4 separate regions of the Homo sapiens genome follow, and all the other regions are linked to region 3. Evidence: fine-mapped expression QTL. A gene starts in region 3. Each other region holds a variant in brackets. All regions are shown on one strand. Distances are from middle to middle. Region 1 overlaps GSDMB (gasdermin B). Region 2 overlaps CDK12 (cyclin dependent kinase 12). Region 3 holds the start of PGAP3 (post-GPI attachment to proteins phospholipase 3). Region 4 overlaps CDK12 (cyclin dependent kinase 12).

Region 1 (5,000 bases), 230 kb before region 3:
ATTATCCTTTCATGTTCCTTGGCTATCAAGACTGAAGGGGAAGTTTCTGATGAGCAGAAATCCCTAAGGTATTGAGGGAATTTATGGAAGAGTCAATTATTCCAACCCCCTGCCTCTGATCTCAGTTATTCCTGGGGTACTTGGGTTTCAGAAGCCCCAGGGTTAAGTGTTGAACTCTCACTTGGAGCCCAAAGTGGAATATGGTGAGGAGTTCATTATATTTCATAATGTGAAAAAATATTTCATAATATGAACAATAGCAAGGCGCTCATAGCTCAGACCTCTCTGATACAGTCCATTTCTTTTTATGAGGTCTCATGCCAAGAGACGGAAAAGAGCTCTAACAGCCCTGAGCAGCTTTAGAGTATTACAGTGTGCCAGGAACTGCTTTAAGTGACCAAGAGCAGTACCCAGATTACTTGGAGGTGGTGGACCTTTCCACAAGCAGAGTTTCGTTAAGCAAGCAAGGGGCTTTTGGAGAAATTTCAGATTCGCATCTTTCAAAGACTGAGTCAATTCTCTGAAAAGTAAATTGCTAAGAGCCAATTTGCTAAAAGTCAGCTCTCAAAAAAAAAAAAAAAAATCAGTTTGCCAAATGATCAATTCACTGAAAATGGAAAAATACTTTAACCCAGAACTAGGATGTTTTGCCACAATAATATTACTCCCCAGGGACAGGGCAAAGTTTAAGTCTGGGAAAAAAAAATTGACTAAGTCAGTCAACTTCCTTTAAGGAAAAGCTCATCTGTGTGCATACAAAATTCGGAGGCAGAGGTGAAACCAAACTTAAAAAGAAAATCCTTACAATGATGGGAATTGGTAATTTGAATTGATTTTTAGCTTGGTCTGCTCCCTATTTAAATGGGTTATTTTGTAACTGTATAATGCTGATGGTGCAGTTAAAGTGTGCATAGGGCTGGGCACAGTGGCTCGCGCCTGTAATCCCAGCACTTTGGGAGACTGAGGCGGGTGGATCACTTGAGGTCAGGAGTTCAAGTCTGGCCTGGCCAACATGGCGAAACCCTGTCTCTACTAAAAATACAAAAATTAGCTGGGCATGATGGCGCATGCCTGTAATCCCAGCACTTTGGGAGGCTGAGGCGGGCGGATCACTTGAGGCCAGGAGTTCGAGACCAGCCTGGCCAACATGGCAAAACCCTGTCTTTACTAAAAATACAAAAATTAGCTGGGCGTGGTGTCGCATGCCTGTAATCCCAGCTACTCGGGAGGCTGAGGCAGGAGAATTGCTTGAACCTGGGAGGTGGAGGTTGCACAGTGAGCCATGATTATACCACTGCACTCCAGCCTGGCGACAAAGCAAGACTCCGTCTCAAAAAAAAACAAAAAAAAAAGTGTGCATAGGATTTTGTGTTTGTTATTAAAGTCCATACTTTATTCACATTAACTTTTTTTTTTTTTTTTTTGAGATGGAGTGTCGCTCTATTGCCCAGGCTGGAGAGCAGTGGCGCGATCTCGGCTCACTGCAACCTTCACCTCTAGGTTCAAGTGGTTCTCCTGCCTCAGCCTCCCGAGTAGCTGGGATTATAGGTGCCTGCCACCACACCTGGCAAATTTTTTGTATTTTTAGTAGAGACAAGGTTTCACCATGTTGGCCAGGCTGGTCTTGAACTCCTGACCTCAGGTGATCCGCCCGCCTTGGCCTCCCAAAGTGCTGGGATTACAGGTGTGAGCCGCTGCACCCAGCCCATGTTATCTTAGTTTTGACCTAGTGTCCTTTTTCTATTCCAGAATCCCATCCAGGATCCTACATTACATTTCGTTGTCATGTCTCCTTAGGCTCCTCTTGGCTGTGACAGTTTCTCAGACTTTACCTGTTTGGGATAATCTTAGCAGTTTTGAGCAGTACTGGTCAGGGATACTGTAGAACGTCCCTCTGTTGGAATTTGGCTGATGTTTTTTCTCATGGTTAGACTGGGTTCTGGGTCTCGGGGAGGAAGACCACAGAGGTAAAGGACCATTCCTATTACATCACATCAGGGGTACGTACTGTCAACATGACCTATCACTGTTGATGTTGACCTTGATCACTTGGCTGAGGTAATGTTTGTCAGGTTTCTCTACCAGAAGTTACTCTTTTTCCTCTTCTTCATATAGTACTCTTTGTGCACATAGTTTTTATTTTTCTTTTTCTCTCTGATATTTTTCTTTTCTTTTACACTGCTCAAGAAGCAAATGGTCCCTAAGACATTAGTGTCTCATGTACACACAAATAGTGATTTCAGTCACTGTTTCTAATTCTGTCACATTTCCACCAGTTCCAAAATGGATTTGTCTTTGGAAATCCAGCCCTGCCTCCAAAACCTAGCAGTGGGAGCTCTCCCTCCCCTGTAGGTTCCCATCTGGGAGGTTGGAGACAAAGGCACGCAGCCCCTTCGGCATGCCCACACATCCTCCACGAACCTGGGGTGGCAACTGACTCAGAACCAAGGCCCTTATTAGTGCCTGATCAATCAGGGCCGAGTCCATGCGTGTTTGTGACTTTCCAGGGTTGCCTCACTTCATACTTGTGTGGTTCATACAAACAACAGCGACAGAACTGCTTTTATTGGAGATGGAGTCTCGCTGTCGCCCAGGCTGGAGTGCAGTGGCTTGATCTTGGCTCACTGCAGTCTTTGCTTCTGCCTCCCAGGTTCAAGCGATTCTCCTGCCTCGGCCTCCCAAGTAGCTGGAATTA[C/T]AGGCATGTGCCACCACCCCCGACTAATTTGGTAGAGATGGGGTTTCACCATGTTGGCCAGGTTGGTCTCCAACTCCTGACCTCAAGTGATCTACCCACCTCAGCCTCCCAAAGTGCTGGGATTACAGGCGTGAGCCACCCCACCGTGCCCACCCAGAACTGCTTAATTTTTATTTCCCAATTGGCTGGGGCTCCTACTTCTTTAGCTTTACTTTTCTTTGTCTTGTTTCAGCCTACAAGACTGGCTTACAATTATTAAGCAGTTAGAATGTATGCCAGGCACTTGGTTAAGTGCTTAACTACATCATTATATTTAATTTCTTCATTTCTTTTCTTTTCCTTTCCTTTTCTTTTTCTTGTTTTGTTTTGTTTTGTTTTGAGGCAGAGAGGCAGAGTGTCACTCTCCTCCAGGCTGGAGTGCAGTGGTGTGATCTCAGCTCACTGCAACCTCCGCCTCCTGGGTTCAAGCGATTCTCATGCCTCAGCCTCTCAAGTAGCTGTGATTACAGGCACACACCACCAGGCCTGGCTACTTTTTGTATTTTTTAGTAGAGACGGGGTTTCACCATATTGGCCAGGCTGGTCTCGAACTCCTGACCTCAAGTGATCTGCCTGCCACAGCCTCCCAAAGTTCTGGGATTACAGGCGTGAGCCACTGTGCCCAGCCCTAATTTCCCTAAATATAGGAAGTAGACATTAGTAATATTCTCCTACTATAGATGAAGAAACAGATTCAAAGAGGTTAAGTGACTTACCCAAGGTCATGTGGTAAGAAGGTGGAGGAGTGGGCTCAAATCTGGGATCCTGTGACCCCAAGGTAACTGTGCTTCTGGTGAGAACAGCATTTCCTGGACAGCCACAGCTGTGGCGCTCCCTCAGAAGGGAGGGGGATGGTGGCACGGAACCCAGGATGGGGCTGCCCCAGGGAGGGTGTTTTGGAGAGAGATCTTTTGGGGGTCTGCTCCAGAGTGACCTTTATCATTCTCTTTCCAGGTCAAAAGGCTGAGTTTCAAATTCTGGATAATGTAGACTCAACGGGAGAGTTGATAGTGAGATTACCCAAAGAAATAACAATTTCAGGCAGTTTCCAGGGCTTCCACCATCAGAAAATCAAGATATCGGAGAACCGGATATCCCAGCAGTATCTGGCTACCCTTGAAAACAGGTGAGGTTGGAGTTGGGCAGCAGGGAAGGAGGGGAAGAAGCCCATCTTGGGCACCAAGGGATTCAAGGGTGGCAGACCGGCTCTTTTTAAAATTTATTTATTTTTATTTTTCTTTTCCCTGCTTTTCATGAGCTTTGTGGGGGACTGGCTCTCTAGGGCAGCCTCTCGCTCTCTACTTCCAGGATTCCCTCAGCCCTCCCCTTTACGCAAGCACGCCTTCCTCTTCTCTGCCTCCAGAAGCCTTCTCATTCACCCAGGAGCAGTCTCCAGGAAGCCTTCTGATGCCCCCAATTCACTCATATCCCTGCTGTCCCCCAGGATGGTTAATTCCTCTGACTTGGACAAACCTGGTTGTTTTTTTTTTGTTTGGTTTTTGTTTTGTTTTTTTTTGAGACGGAGTCTCGCTCTGTCGGCCAGGCTAGAGTGCAATGGCATGATCTCGGCTCACTGCAACCTCCACCTCCAAACCTGGTGGTTTAAGAGGCACTCTCCTTTGCTCTCCTCTGCTCTCCTGCACTGAGCTGCCCACATCAGTATTTTGTGCTTGTTTCCCTCTGCCTTGTGGGCAAGCCAGTGGCTTCCATGTTCGTCTTTCCCACTGGACTGGAAGCAACTTGTGACAAGGGACTGACTTTACTAACCTCTCTGTATTGACCCCAAGCACACAGTAGGTACTGAGTGAAAGAGAGCTGAAGTGAAGCACGAGGAAAGCAAAGAACCCCTTGGAGGATGTTTCCTGCATGGAGTACAGCCACCCCACCCCAGCAGGGTGGCACCGATCCAGTGCCACAGAGGTTCTGGTAGCTGGTGGGCAGGTGCTTCCAATTCAAGAGGACATCACTAGCCATCCCCTCAGCAATAGTTCTGTTGTTGTTTTCTTCAGCTGGGATTGTTGGAGATTGAGGAGTAGCTCAGGGGAAGGTGACCCACAGTTTTCCTGGCCTTGCTCTCCTTGAGTGGAGCGGGTACCTTTTTTCTTTTCCTTTTCCTTTTTTTTTTTTTGAGATGGAGTTTCACTTTTGTTGCCCAGGCTGGAGTGCAATGGTACATTCTTGGCTCACTGCAACCTCTGCCTCCTGGATTCAAGAGATTCTTCTGCCTCAACCTCCCGAGGAGCTGGGACTACAGGTGCCCGCCACC
Region 2 (5,200 bases), 180 kb after region 3:
GTTTCCTGGGCCCCATTCTTAGAGATGCTGACTCAGTAGAACATGGCTCATGAATCTGCATTTCTAACAGGCCCATACGTGATGCCAATGCAGCTGGCCTGAGAATCAGGCTTTGAGAATCACTTCAAGGAGATCCCAACCATGTTTCACTCTGCTGATTTTTTTTTTTTTTTTTTGAGACAGAGTCTCACTCTATTACCTAGGCTGGAGTGCAATGGTGTAACCCTGGCTCACTGTAGCCTTGATGATCTCCCAGGTTCAAGTGATTCTCCAGCCTCAGCCTCCCAAGTAGCTGGGACTATAGGTGTGCACCAATATGTCCAGCTAATTATTTTATTTTTTGTAGAGACAGAGTTCCCCTATGTTGCCTAGGCTGGTCTTAAATTCCTGTGCTCAAGTGATCCTCCCTCCTCAGCCTCCCAAAGGGCTGGGAGTACAGGCATGGGCCACCATGACTGGCCTCTGCTCAGTATTCTATCCTTGACAGTGATATAAAGGAATTTTTTTTTTTAAGTTCCAGGGTACATGAGGTTTGTTACGTAGGTAAATGTGTGCCATGGTGGTTTGCTGCACCTATTGACCCATCGCCTAAGTATTAAGCCCAGCAAGCATTAGCTATTTTTCCTGATGCTCTCTCTCCTCCTGCATGAAGGAATATTTTTGAAAACTGCAAGACGAGATGTTGGGAATCTATTTTAAAACTATTTATTTATTGGAGGGGGTGGGCAATGCAAAACCCAACAACTACTTATTGACTACTTTGGATTAATGATATTTATCTAAATTCATGTAACCTGTTTAGTCATATTTACAGCCTTGCTACTTCTTGGGACATGAAAAGCCAGCTCACTGTCTTATAGGAAGCTGGTGTAGGTGTCTAATAGTTCAGATCAGGCAAAAAAGTGAGATATAGATTGTGCATCCAAATCCAAAAATGTGAAATCCAAAATTTTTCAGAACCTTCTCCCCCCGCCGTCTGAAGCAAAATCTGAAACTTTTTGAGTGCCAACATGACACTCAAAGGAAATGCTCAGTGGAACATTTCAGATTTTGGATGTTCAGAACCAGTAAGTATAATGTAAATATTCCAAAATCTAAAAAAAATCTGAAATCCAAAAGAATTCTCGTCTCAAGCACAGGGGATACTCAACATGTAGTACAGAAAAGAGGCCAAGAGGTGCTCCCCAAAATATGGACATGTGACAATATTAAAACAAGGTAACTACTAGCAACAAACTTCTACATTAAATCAATGCTTATTCCTAGTGAAGTTAAAGGTACCTTATCCACTTGCCCCAAACACCATTACATTAAGTTCAATTTATAAGCAAATTGTGAGAAAAGCAACAAGAAATAGTTAACTTATATTAAGACAAAGATGATTCCTCAAATTACTTGGCATCCTTACTCTGAAAGCCTGAAATTATGTAAGATTCAAGGCACATAGTAGGACTGAAAGTCAAAATGGAAATGGATATATAGTTACAGAAATCAGTGTAGACCTGAATATCACCAGCATCTAACATATTTCCTGCCTGGCTCATACTAGGTACTAAATAAATGTTTATTAAACGAATTTAGTCTGCTACAGAACCTGCTGATAGCACTTTTTTTTTTTTAAGACTGAGCTTCAATCTTGTTGCCAAGGCTGGAGTGCGATGGCGCTATCTCGGCTCACTACAACCTCTGCCTCCCGAGTAGCTGGGATTACAGGCATGTGCCACTACGCCCGGCTAATTTTGTATTTTTAGTAGAGATGGGGTTTCTCCATGTTGGTCAGGCTGGTCTTGAACTCCCTACCTCAGGTGATCCGCCTGCCTCGGCCTCCCAAAGTGCTGGGATTACAGGCATGAGCCACCGCGCCCGGCCGCTGATAGCACTTTTACTGACTCCCACTTTTCCTTCCAACTAAACCATTAAGGTGACTCAGTATGAAGTGTGGAAGTACTTGTAACTTTTTGCAATATAAAATAGAACAGGCCGGGCGCAGTGGCTCACGCCTGTAGTCCCAACACTTTGGGAGAC[C/T]GAGGCAGGCGGACCACTTAAGTCAGGAGTTTGAGACCAGCCTGGCCAACATGGTAAAACCCTGTCTCTACTAAAAATACAAAAATTAGCTGGGCGTGGCGGCAGACACCTGTAGTCCTAGCCACTTGGGAGGCTGAGGTGGGAGAATCGCTTGAACCTGGGAGGCGGAGGTTGCAGTGAGCTGAGATTGTGCCACTGCACTCCAGCCTGGGTGACACAGTGAGACTCCATCTCAAAAAATAAAATATAAAATAAGTAAATAAACAAAATAAAATACAATACAAAAGAAGTGCCATCATATTGTTTATGTCCTGTCTCAAAGGAATAAGGTGAATATAGAAATATCTGGAGAATCCTTTCTGAGACCATGGTTTAACATTTTTGCCTTTTGAGAAGAACTTCAAGTACACAGTGCCTCCACTCACTCCCAGTTCAGCCCTCTTTCACGTAATACTTCCTTCCCTTGCCTACCTGGACCCCTTGGTTAATTAACCAAACTATTGTCTTCCTCGTTGCCTTAGCTTGTGATATAGCTAATCCCTAAGTCCCTAATTCTGGATCATTAGAAAATCTGTCTTTTCTGCTCTACCTAGAGAGCTGAACACAAGTGTAAAGAATAAAAATCATATAATTGGCCAGGCGTGGTGGCTCGCGTCTGTAATCCTAGCACTTTAGGAGGCTGAGGTGGGTGGATCACTTGAGGTCAGAGGTTTGAGACCCAGCCTGGCCAACATGGTGAAACCCCGTCTCTACTAAAAATACAAAAATTAGCCAGGCGTGGTGGCATGCGCCTGTATTCCCAACTACTCGGAAGGCTGAGGCAGGAGAAGGGCTTGAACCGGGAGGCAGAGGTTGCAGTGAGCCGAGATAGCGCCACTACATTCCAGCCTGGTGACAGAGTGAGACTCCATCTCAAAAAAAAAAAAAAAAAAAAAATCATATAATCATATTGTATGGTGTCACTGCAAAATGTGTGATTTCCTCTCTCTGTTAATTCCTGAATGCTGCTGGTTAGTCCTTTTACTTGTCTGTAATCAGCAACTTCCATTCAACATGGCTGTCATTACAGACCTCTGGCATTCTCCTTAATGCTCTAATCCATCCCCTACCCTCTTACACTTACTTAGTAAATGACCTTTTTCAGTGAAAAAATTAAAGTCATTAGGTGAGAGGTCCTTAACATCCTACCTTTTACCAGTAAACTTACTTCCATCTATAATTTTACTTTCCTCTTTCCTTTTAATTACAGTCATCCCTTAGTATATCTAGCAATTGGTTCCAAGACTCCCACATATACCAAAATTCAAGCAAACTCAAGTCCTGCAGTACGCTTTATAGAACCTGCATATATGAAACACTGGTACTCCATATAAACAGGTTGCATATACTGCAAACACTGTTTTTTATTTGTTTTTGGTTGGATAAAATCTGTGTATAAGTGGACATGCCACAGTTCAAACCTGCGTTGTTCAACGGTCAATGGTACATAAAAAGCATGTCAATCTCTTTTCTTGACCAAGGATAATCAATCCCTCCATCTGTGGCCTTGATCCCATCTATTCTAGAAATATGCTCCTTTAAATTATTTTGGTTCTTTCCCAAATCTTTTTTTTTTTTTTTTTTTTGAGACGGAGTCTCGCTCTGTCACCAGGCTGGAGTGCAGTGGTGCGATCTCAGCTCACTGCAACCTCCACCTCCCGGGTTCAAGTGATTCTCCTGCCTCAACCTCCTGAGTAGCTGGGACTACAGGCACGCACCTCCACACCCAGCTAATTTTTATATTTTTAGTAGAGACGGGGTTTCACCATGTTGGCCAGGATGGTCTCGATCTCTTGACCTCGTGATCTGCCCGCCTTGGCCTCCCAAAGTGCTGGGATTACAGGTGTGAGCCACCGCGCCTGGCCTTTTTTTTTTTTTTTTTGAAACGGAGTCTTGCTCTGTTGCCAGGCTGGAGTGCAGTGGCGCGATCTCAGCTCACTGCAACCTCTGTCTCCTGGGTTCAAGTGATTCCGCTGCCTCAGCCTCCCAAGTAGCTGGGATTACAGGCATGCGCCACCATGCCCAGCTAATTTTTTGTATTTTAGTAGAGACGGGGTTTTACCATGTTGGACAAGATGATCTTGAACGCCTGACCTCATGATCCGTCCGCCTCGGCCTCCCAAAGTGCTGGGATTACAGGTGTGAGCCACTGCGCCTGGCCCCCAAATCTTCAACTGCTCCCTTTTTATAGATTTTCTTTCTCCTTAGCGTTTTTTTTTTTTTTTTTTTTGAGACAGGGTCTTGTTCTGTCACCCAGGATGGAGTGCAGTGGTGGCAATCTCTGCTCACTGCAACCTCTGTGTCCCAGGTTCAAGCAGTTCTCATGCCTTGGCCTCCCACGTGGCTGGGATTAGATGCGTGCACCACCAAGCTCAGCTAATTTTTGTACTTTTAGTAGAGACAGAATTTTGCTATGTTGGCCAGGCTGGTCTCGAACTCCTAGCATCAAGTGACCTGCCCACTTCAGCCTCCCAAAGTGTTAGGATTACACATGTGAGCCACCACGTTGGCCTCCCCTTAGCATTTAAATATATTCAAATCTCTGCCATCCTTAAAATTAAAAATTAAAGACACCCCCTACCAGTACCTTCCCATTAACTGTGCTACTCAACCCCTTACTCCACACTAATTATCACTACTGACCTTTTAATTTTCAGATTCTCTTATAATTTGCCTGCATCATCTGACATCAATCACCACTCCCTTCTTAAACCTGCCTATCTTGCATTCATATTTTCCTTATTTTCTTCCTATCTCTCTGACCATCTCTCTTGGGTTACATTTCTGACATCTTTTCTATGTTCTGTAACTACCAACTCTGTATTGGTAGTTTGGAATTCCCAAATGACCATATGCTATTAAATATCACTACCCTGGATATATAAAAGACATATTCAAAAGAGATTTGCCTGTTACTCCATCCATCCTACTCTTCCATCTTCCTTGTATTGACTAGTAGTGCCACCCATCTAGCTAGTTTTTCAAGTCAGAAACCTGTGAGTTATCTTACTTTCTCTAATTCATTATCTACCATACACTCACTCAACCAAAGTCTACAGATCTACCGAGTCCATCCCTACTAGTGGTGTCTGGGTTATTTCCAGCACTGACCATTTATTACGAAGTTCTTAGAGGG
Region 3 (5,200 bases):
GCGGGAGGATCACTCGAGCCCAGGAATTGGAGACCAGTCTAGGCAACATAGCAAGACCGTGTCTCTACAAAAAATTAAAAAAATTAGCAGGGCATAGTGGCGCATGCTGCAGTCCCAGCTACTCAGGAGGCTGAGATGGAAGGATCACTTGAGTCTGGGAGGTTGAGGTTGCAGTGAGTCGTGATCATGCCACTGCACTTCAGTCTAGGTGAAAGAGTGAGAGGCTGTCTGGGAAAAAAAATTTTTTTTAACTAAATGTATATAAATGTAGCAATATGTCAACTATTAACAGCAATTAGATTGAATTATATATATGTATAGTTATTTATAAATCTTATTTAATGTGGGGCGTTACTGCATTTCAGTATGTTTGACATAATATAGGATGAGGCCTTCAAAATTGGAATTTTCTTTTTCTTTTTTTTTTTTTTTTTGAGTTTCGCTCTTGTTGCCCAGGCTGGAGTGCGATGGCGCAATCTTGGCTCACCACAACCTCTGCCTCCCTGGGTTCAAGCGATTCTCCTGCCTCAGCCTCCTGAGTAGCTGGGATTACAGGCATGCACCACCACACCCAACTAATTTTGTATTTTTAGTAGAGATGGGGTTTCTCCATGTTGGTCAGGCTGGTCTCAAACTCCTAACCTCAGGTGATCCGTCCGCCTCGGCCTCCCAAAGTGCTGGGATTACAGGCGTGAGCCACCACCCCCAGCCTTACTTAGGAATTTTCTAAAGGGGAGACTCCCTATTTTGTCAGGATTTCATCCTCTTTAATCCTAAATGTCCATCTTTATATGAGGATCCTCATAAAAAGACTCATCCCAGAGTCACAGAAAGGACAAAATGAAATGAAAAAAGAAAAAAAAACAGTATTGTAAAAGAACTAATCTGTAAGATGCAAAGTAGTATTAGCACTGGATTTCCGGTCAGCTCCTGGAGGGCTAAGGGGTTGTTTTGTTCATTTCAGCTTCTCAGTCAGTATCAGTTGGGTGGTCAACTCCAGGGGACACTATTCATGTTATATTTAACTGGAAGAATTTGCCATTCACAGAAAAGGCAATGTGAATGCTGCTCCCCAGAGCACCATTCACAGAAAATGCAATGTGAATGGTGCCTCCTGGAGATTTTGCCTTGCTTAGCAAGGTGCTAGAGCTAAGGACTCAGAAATGTTTGTTAAGTGAGTGAATGGAATCCCAGGCTACTTCTTACTCATTCCAACCCCCAGGACGAAAAAGAAAAGTTGACAAGGGGTGAGGAGAGTGGGGGAGGAGAAAGGGTGATCCTTAGCTACAAGGCTTCTATGAGATTGGGTGTGGGTCGGTGCTGATGGGAGTGCAGGGGAGGTGAGCAGGGAGAGGATACTAAAGCAAGCGTCCTGTTCCCAGGGTTCCTAATTTTCCTAGAAATATTACTTCTCTCCGATCTCAGTGCAGAACCATACTGATGATTTTACAGCCCTGGATTTGTCAAGTTCTTATGTTGATGTATGCTGTTCATTCATTAAACAGAAGAACAAACAAACGCAGTTAGCGCCTACCATAAGCCAAATTCTGTGCTGGAGGTAGAGTGGTGAACAGGACAGCAAAGGTTCTACCCCGCATGGGGAAGCAATCACCCTCGGGAGGTGGTACTTCAATTGCGACTAGAAGAAAAAAGAAGAGTGAGTGATTCAGACCAGGCCAGGCAGTCAGGAAGCTTGAGGGACATAGCCCTCTGAAGCGGGTCTGGAGCAAGGGAGTGAGGGAGACCAGTGGACAGGGGCCAAATCAGGCAGGGTTTGTGGAGACTGTATTTTACCCAAGGTAATTGGGAGCCAGTAAATAATTTTAAGAAAAAAAAAGTGATATGGGCAAATTTTAATTTTTCAAAATGGAGCGCAGGTTGGAAGAGGCAAAAGTAGAGGCAGGGAGAGCCATTAAGAAGCTACTGCGGCTGTCTTGGCGACACATGATGGTGTCTTTAACCAGGGTGGTGCCAGAAGAGATGGAGAGAAGTGGATAGTTACAGGTACGTTTAGGAAGTAAAATCCGACAGGGGTGGTGACAGTAAACAGCCCTACCTCAAAAAAGATCATGGAAAACACTTCAGTTTGCTCATTAACCCATCAGGCGTCCGCCTTCCCTTAACCCTATCGCCTCGATATATGGACACAGCAGGGGGACGAGGGGCGGGGCAGGCGCCCACAAAAATCCGGGAACTTTAATTTAAACTGTGTGGACTTCAGCGGAGAGTAGAATAAAGAACACAGGAACTTCCGGTTACTCCGGAAGTGGAAGCTTCATACTCCTAAGCTCCTCCCCCGGCGGCGAGCCAGGGAGAAAGGATGGCCGGCCTGGCGGCGCGGTTGGTCCTGCTAGCTGGGGCAGCGGCGCTGGCGAGCGGCTCCCAGGGCGACCGTGAGCCGGTGTACCGCGACTGCGTACTGCAGTGCGAAGAGCAGAACTGCTCTGGGGGCGCTCTGAATCACTTCCGCTCCCGCCAGCCAATCTACATGAGTCTAGCAGGTAAGCCCCACCCCCACGGTAAGCCCCGCCCATTTGTCTTGCTCCCGCCCCCTGCGCCCCCAATACGCCTCTGCAATCCCTGAACCTTAGTTTCCCCACGAGGTCTCTTATGAATGTGAGTGAAGCCCCTAAGGTGATGAGAGCCTTACCAGCCTCTCTTACTTTCCCAGAAGCTTTCATTTACTTATTTGTTCAGTCAAAAGGGTATTTATTAAATACATTCGGGCCACAATGTCTAGGAATGGCACAGAAATCAGACCAGGGTCCCGCCCATTGGGACTCACAGTCCCCACGGGGACATGAGCCTTTTCAAGTGCAAGGCAGAGAATGATTTGAGCCCCTGAAAGACTCTTTGATTAGGAAGCATTTGGGATAGGAAGGTGTCAGTTCCGGCTTTGAAGACGTGGGGGCAGGGATCATCTTGGAACGTTTTGTTTGAAGGAGGGACTTTGGACTGGTACATTCGATTTGGACCATAGTGGGCAAAGAACCAACGTATTGAGCACTCACTGTGTGACAGGTGTCACAATATGTCAAGTAATTTTTATCACACCCTTTGAGATAGTTTCTCTAATCCCAGTTTTACAGATGGGGATTAGAGAGATTAAATGCCCTGCCCAAGGTCACACAGCCAGTATGTAGTAAAGTGGAGTTTCCAGTTCTGGCCTGTTTGACCACAAGCTTGTCCTCTTTACTATTATACCACTTTGCATTCCAGACAGAGGGAACAGAGAGAATGGATGCCCTGGGCAGATGTGGGCACATCCAGGAGCTTTATTTACTCAGGGAGCAGGGTACATGAACAGGAGTAGTGACCAATACGGTTGGAAAGGCAATTTGGAGCCTCAAAAGTCAGGTTGAAGAATTTGGGCTTCATTTTCATAGGAAGGGAGTAAGATAGCAAGAACTCCTTCCAGGAGAGTAAGAGCAAATCCTATATTCAGGAAGGACAAATATAAACCCAGGTTTCCATAGATGAGTTCATCAGATGCCAACATCTTGATGGACTTGAGCAAAAGGAGAGGAAATGTCTGCCAAGGTAGAAAGATCATCTGAGCCCTGGAGTTCAAGACTAGCCTAGGCAACATGACAAGATGCCTTCTCTACAAAAAATAAAAGAATTAGCCAGACATTGTGGTCTCGCTACTTGGGAGGCTGAGGTGGGAGGATCGTTTGAGCCCAGGAGGTCAAGGCTGTGGTGAGCCATGCTCTCCCCACTGCACTCCAGCCTGGATGAAAGAGCGAGACCCTGTCTCAAAAAAAAAAAAAAAAAAAAAATGCCGGGTGCGGTGGCTCGTGCCTGCAATCCCCGCACTTTAGGTGGCAGAGGCAGGCAGATAACCTGAGGTTGGGAGTTCAAGACCACCCTGACCAACATGGAGAAACCCCATCTCTACTAAAAATACAAAATTAGTTGGGTGTGGTGGTGCATGCCTGTAATCCCAGCTACTCGGGAGCCTGAGGCAGGAGAATCGCTTGAACCCAGGAGGCGGAGGTTGCAGTGAACCGAGATCGCACCATTGCACTCCAGCCTGGGCAACAAAAACAAAACTGTCTCAAAAAAACAAACAAAAAAAAGACGAATATCTCTAATTGCTCACTAAAATATGCATACATACGTACATACACCTTCCCCTATGTGTACATCTCATCATCTCTCATTCATTCAAAGGGGAAGCTAGAATTTTGAGATTTCTCCTGGTTCTCTCCAACTTACAGGCCCTCTTGGCCTACATTTGCGCTTGGACCCCATTCATGCTCTCTCTTTCCTCTCTGTGCTGGGGAGTTCACCAGGCCACATTTGTCTGTTTCAGGCTGGACCTGTCGGGACGACTGTAAGTATGAGTGTATGTGGGTCACCGTTGGGCTCTACCTCCAGGAAGGTCACAAAGTGCCTCAGTTCCATGGCAAGGTGAGTTGGAGGGTCAGGGTAGGCATATGGTAGTAGCGTGGTAGGAGTAATATACCCCCTGGTTGGACCACACTGTCCAAGCAGTCTGAGGCATGGGGTAATGCGTGTGTGTTTGGGGCAGCTACCTGTTCTCCCCAAAATCTGCTGGTTTCCATAGAATTGGATAGGACCCATGTGTCCTGCCTCTGGATTTGGAGTAGCAATATCTGGAAGGCTTTGGAGTCTCCCCAGAGAGTGGTGCTGGGCCTCTTAGAGTGGTTGAGATGCCCACCTTACTGCAGGGACAAATTCCCTTACCTACTGTGGCTTGTTTCCTGTTGCTTCTCCAGTAGGGGTCTGGATTCACAGTAATATGCTTCAGCTTGTCTAGCGAGGCACAGTTTGCTGGTACCTTTCTTTCTTTTGTTTTTTGTTTTTTGTTTTTTTTTTTGAGATGGAGTCTCCCTCTGTCGCCCAGGCTGGAGTGCAGTGGCATGATCTTGGCTCACTGCAACCTCTACCTCCCAGGTTCAAGCAATTCTCATGCCTGAGCCTCCCAAGTAGCTGGGACTACAGGTGTGTGCCACCACACCCAGCTAATTTTTTGTATTTTTTTTTTTTTTTTTTTAAGTAGAGATGGGGTTTCACCATGTTAGCCAGGATGGTCTCAATCTCCTGACCTTGTGACCCTCTCGCCTCAGCTTCCCAAAGTGCTGGGATTACAGGCGTGAGCCACCGCGCCTGGCCTGCTGGTACGTTTCAATCCAGTATTATCTCATTCTGGCCTGTTGAGGTTGGCAGGAAGTAT
Region 4 (5,200 bases), 210 kb after region 3:
CCACCATGCCCGGCTAATTTTTTGTATTTTTAGTAGAGACGGGGTTTCATCGTGTTAGCCAGGATGGTCTCGATCTCCTGACCTCGTGATCTGCCCGCCTCAGCCTTCCAAAGTGCTGGGATTACAGGTGTGAGCCACCGCACCCGGCCATTAGATTTCTTTCTAAAAAGCTTTCCTATGTAAAAATTACTTTTCATGTCAAAGATAGGAGCAGCTGGTACATGGATATGGAGCAGCTGGTACATGGATATAGCAGCACACACACACATACAAAATAGAAACAGAAACACATCATGAATTTAAAATAAAAAAATAAAATTGATAATGGAAGACATCCTCATCTCATTTTCTTTGATACAACATCTCACTGTTATCCAGGCTAGAGTGCAGTGGTGCGATCATGGCTCACTGTAGCTCTGACCTTCCAGGCTCCAGTAATCATCCCACCTCAGTCTCCCAAGTAGCTCAGACCACAGGTGCATGCTATCATGCCTTTTCTTGTTTAATGGTAGAAACAGGGTCTGGCTATGTAGCCTAAAACACATGGGCTCAAACAAGCCTCTTGCCTTGGCCTCCCAAAGGGCTGGGATTATAGGAGTGAGCCACAGCACCTGGTCTATTTCCGTTTTTCTACCTTTAATAATTTATTTATATGTAGAATACTGATAATAATCATGGCCAGGGCTGGGCACGTTGGCTCATGCTTCCAATCCCAGCACTATGGGAGGCCAAGGCAGGTGGATCACCTAAGGTCAGGAGTTCGGGACCAGCCTGGATGACATGATGAAACCCTGTCTCTACTAAAAATACAAAAAAATTATCCGGATATGGTGGCATGCGCCTGTAGTCCCAGCTACTGGGGAGGCTGAGGCAGGAGAGTCATGTGAACCCCAGAGGCAGAAGTTGCAGTGAGCTGAGATTGAGCCACTGCACTCCAGCTTGAGTGACAGCAGGAATCCATCTCAAAAAAAAAAATAATGGCCAAACTCAGTGGCTCACACATGTAATGCCAGCATTTAGGGATGCCAAGGTGGAAGGATCACATGAGTTGAGGAGTTTGGGACAAACCTGGGCAACATAGCAAGACCCCGTCTCTTAAAAAAAAAAAAAAAGAGGTGGAGGAGGAGATGGCTAAAAAAAAAAAAAATCATGTTTAAAAATAATTAGATGGGCCCGGTGCAGTGGCTCATGCCTGTAATCCCAGCACTTTGGGAGGCCGAGGCAGGCAGACCCCGAAGTCAGGAGTTCAAGACCAGCCTGGTCAATGTAGTGAAACCCCGTCTCTACTAAAAATACAAAAATAGGCGGGGTGCAGTGGCTCACGCCTGTAATCCCAGCACTTTGGGAGGCCAAGGTGGGCAGATCACGAGGTCAGGAGATCGAGATCATCCTGGCTAACACGGCGAAACCCCATCTCTACTAAAAAATACAAAAAATTAGCTGGGCGTGGTGGCAGGCGCCTGTAGTCCCAGCTACTCGGGAGGCTGAGGCAGAAGAATAGCGTGGACCCAGGAGGTGGAGCTTGCAGTGAGCCAAGATCGAGCCACTGCACTCCAGCCTGGGCGACAGAGCAAGACTCTGACTCAAAAAAAAAAAAAAAATAAATAATAAATAAATAAAAATAAAAATACAAAAATTAGCTGGGCACAGTGGCTCACGTCTGTAATCCCAGCACTTTGGGAGGCCAAGGTGGGTGGATCACCTGAGGTCAGGAGTTCGAGACCAGCCTGACCAACACAGTGAAACCCCGTCTCTACTAAAAATACAAAAAAATGAGCTGGGCATGGTGGCATGCGCCTGTAGTCCCAGCTACTTGGGAGGCTGAGGCAGGAAAATCGCTTGAACCCAGGAGGTGGAGGTTGTGGTGAGCCAAGATCGCGCCACTACACTCCAGCCTGGGCAACAGGGTGAGACTCACTCCAGCCTGGGCAACAGTGAGACTCCAGACTTCATCTAAAACAAAAACAAAAATAAAAACACTACAAAAATTAGCCAGACATGGTGGCACACACCTGTAGTCCCAGCTACTCAGGAGGCTGAGGCAGGAGAATCGCTTGAACCCTGGTGGTGGAGGTTGTGGTGAGCCAAGATGGCACCACTGCACTCCAGCCTGGGCAACAGAGTGAGACTGTCTCAAAAAATAATAATAATAATTAGATTAGGGCTGGACTTGGTGGTTCACGCCTGTAATTCCAGCACGTTGGAAGCCCGAGGCAGGTGGATCATTTAAGGTCAGGAGTTTGTAACCAACATGGTGAAACCCCCATCTCTAATAAAAATACACAAATTAGCCAGGCGTGGTGGTGGGCACCCGTAATCCAAGCTACTCAGGAGGCTAAGGCAGGAGAATCGCTTGAACTTGGGAGGCGGAGGTTGCGTGAGCTGAGATTGCCCCATTGCACTCCAGCCTGGGCGACAGAGCAGAACTCTGTCTCAAAAAAAAAAAAAAAAAAAAAAAAAAAAAGGCAGGCATGGTGGCTCATGCCTGTAATCTCTGCACTTTGTGGGGCCAAGGCAGGTAGATCACCTGAGATCAGGAGTTCCTGACCAGCCTGGCCAACAGGGCGAAACCCATTGTCTACTAAAAATACAAAATTAGTTGAACATGGTGGCAGGTGCCTGCAATCCCAGCTACTTGGGAGGCTGAGGCAGGAGAATTGCTTGAACCCGGGAGGCGGATGCAGCCGAGATCACATCACTGCACTCCAGCCTGGACAACAAGGGCAAAAATTCCATCTCAAAAAATAAATAAATAAAATAATAAATAGTTGGGGCACGGGGATTCATGCCAGTAATCTCAGTACTTTGGGAGGCTGAGGCGGACAGATCATGAGATCAAGACATCGAGACCATCCAG[G/A]AGAAATATGGTGAAACCCTACCTCTACTAAAAATACAAAAATTAGCTGGGTGTGGTGGCGGGTGCCTGTGGTCCCAACTACTCGGGAGGCTGAGACAGGAGAATCGCTTGAACCCTGGGAAGTTGCAGTGAGCCAAGATCTTGCCACTGCACTCCAGCCTGGCTATGGAGAGAGAATCTATCTCAAAAAAGAAAAAAATCATCAAGATGCTTTTTGTTTCCTAAACATTTTTCTGAAGTAAAAAAAAAAAAAATCAAGATTCTTACCCACATTAATATTCTAGCCACTATGTAAACAAGTATTGAAATGAGGTTCCTATAGCTAAAGGGCCAGGGTCCCTTTGGACAATGCTCAACTATTTCCTTTTCCAACAAAAACTATAAAAATATGGCTTTTATCTTTTTATCTATGGCTTTTATCTATCTATATTTTGGACCTCAAGTTAATTTTTTCCACATAAATTTGAGATTCTGTTCCTGACATGGTGGCTCACACCTGTAATCTCAGTATTTTGGGAGGCCTAGGTGGGCGAATCACGAGGTCAGGAGTTCGAGACCAGCCTGGCCAACATGGTGAAACCCTGTCTCTACTAAAAATACAAAAAATTAGCTGGGCGTGGTGGCAGGCACCTGTAATCCTAGCCACTCGGGAGGCTAAGGTAGAAGAATCGCCTGAACCTGGGAGATGGAGTTTGCAGTGAGCCAAGATCGCCACTGCACTCCAGCCCGGACAACAGTGTGAGACACCGTCTCAAAAAAAAAAAAAAAAAATTTCAGGTTCTCTTCTCTTCTGTAATTTTCATCACGTGGCAGAATTTGTTATTACTTTTTAATTAAAATTTTATTTTTAAAGACAGGGTCTCTTTCACACAAGCTGGCGTACAGTGGCCCAATCATAGTTCACCGTAGCCTTGAACTCCTGGGCTCAAGTGATCCTCCTGCCTCAGCCTCCCAAGTAGCTAGGGCTAAAGGTACCTGCCACCACATCCAACTAATTTTTAAATGTTTTATAGAGATGGGGTCTCACTATGTTGTTGTCCAGGCTGGTTTTGAACTCCTGGCCTTAAACAGTCCTCCCACCATGGCCTCCCAAAGTACTGGGATTACATCCACAAAGCTCAGTCCATAAATACCTATTAATGTTAGAAAGAGTATATGGAATTTTTCTTTAAAATCACATTTTGGGTTGGGTGCAGTGGCTCATGCCTGTAATCCCAGCACTTTGGAAGGCCCAGGTGGGAGAATCATTTAAGGTCAGGAGTTCGAGACCAGCCTGGCCAACATGGTGAAACCCTGTCTCTACTAAAAATACAAAAATTAGCCAGGCATGGTGGCACATGCTTGTAATCTCAGCTACTCAGAGGAGCTGAGGCATGAGAATCACTTGAACCCAGGAGGCAGAGGCTGCAGTGAGCTGAGATCGCGCCATTGCACTCCAGCCTGGGCAACAGAAAGAGACTCCATCTCAAAAAAAAATAAAAATAAAAAATCAGATTTTGGCAGTCTGGTAATGCCAAAAAAAAAAAAAAAAAAAAAAGGAAACATCATATTTCTTTCTATAGTGATGGAGCCATTCCTTAAAATAGTTTTTTTCCCCCTTTCCATTTACTGTACTTGCATCTTCTCTAAAGAACAGAGGGTACGAAAAAACATACTTTCTCACCCAGAGGGCTGCAATGTATCATCATTCAAATGACCAATATTGGCCGGGAGTGGTGGTTCATGCCTGTAATCCCAACACTTTGGAAGGCCAAAGCAAGCGGATCACTTGAGTCCAGGAGCTCAAGACCAACCTGGGCAACATGATGTAACCCCATGTCTACAAAAAATAAATTAGCCGGGTGTAGTGGCATGCACCTGTAATCCCAACTAGTCAGGAAGCTGAGGTGGGAGGATCACTTGAGTCTGGGAGGCAGAAGTTGCAATAAGCCCAGATCACACCACTGCACTCCAGCCTGGGGGACAGAGCCAGATCCTGTCTCAAAATAAAATGAAATAAAATTACAATTATCACCTTGAAAGGAATGAAGGCTTGGGAATTAGGCTAGGATGCAAGATCGGTGGCACTTAATTTTGTGCTTACAATGAAAAGTTTGTTTCAATAAATGCAATTCACATCCCAAAGAGCACAATATCACAGTAGAATAAGCAAACCATAACACAAAGACTGCCATCACATGTCACTGCTAAAGCAAGTGTGTTTGGTGGTACTTGCCTAGTTAGTCCTGTCAAGATATTAAGGAAATACATATATACTGTTTTGAGACAAAGTTTCGCTCTGTCACCCAGGCTGGAGTGCAGTGGCATGACCTCGGCTCACTGCAGCCTCTGCCTCCTGAGTTC

Evidence for each region. PIP is the estimated chance that this variant, and not a neighbour inherited with it, causes the effect.
Region 1: its variant is the best candidate, but not a certain one, in a credible set for the expression of PGAP3 in whole blood (TOPMed, PIP 0.69).
Region 2: its variant is the best candidate, but not a certain one, in a credible set for the expression of PGAP3 in subcutaneous fat (GTEx, PIP 0.79).
Region 4: its variant is the best candidate, but not a certain one, in a credible set for the expression of PGAP3 in whole blood (INTERVAL, PIP 0.54).

What each region holds. Positions count from the first base shown.
Region 1 is chr17:39,911,186-39,916,185 of GRCh38, reverse strand. GSDMB (gasdermin B) reads left to right here. Exons shown (of 11, transcript NM_001165958.2): 3 at 3,689-3,860. Among named protein-coding and RNA genes, the nearest start is that of GSDMB, 4.9 kb to the left of the region's middle. The variant C/T (reference allele first, on the strand shown) is at 2,696.
Region 2 is chr17:39,503,974-39,509,173 of GRCh38, reverse strand. The region is part of intron 6 of CDK12 (cyclin dependent kinase 12); the gene reads right to left. Among named protein-coding and RNA genes, the nearest start is that of CDK12, 45 kb to the right of the region's middle. The variant C/T (reference allele first, on the strand shown) is at 2,026.
Region 3 is chr17:39,685,135-39,690,334 of GRCh38, reverse strand. It overlaps PGAP3 (post-GPI attachment to proteins phospholipase 3), which reads left to right and starts at 2,278. Exons shown (of 8, transcript NM_033419.5): 1 at 2,278-2,501; 2 at 4,316-4,413. The coding sequence starts at 2,321. It also overlaps a transcript of ERBB2 not described here. RefSeq lists a silencer at 905-1,199 and enhancers at 479-1,439, 2,150-2,259.
Region 4 is chr17:39,473,976-39,479,175 of GRCh38, reverse strand. All of the region lies in intron 2 of CDK12 (cyclin dependent kinase 12), which reads right to left. Among named protein-coding and RNA genes, the nearest start is that of CDK12, 15 kb to the right of the region's middle. The variant G/A (reference allele first, on the strand shown) is at 2,858.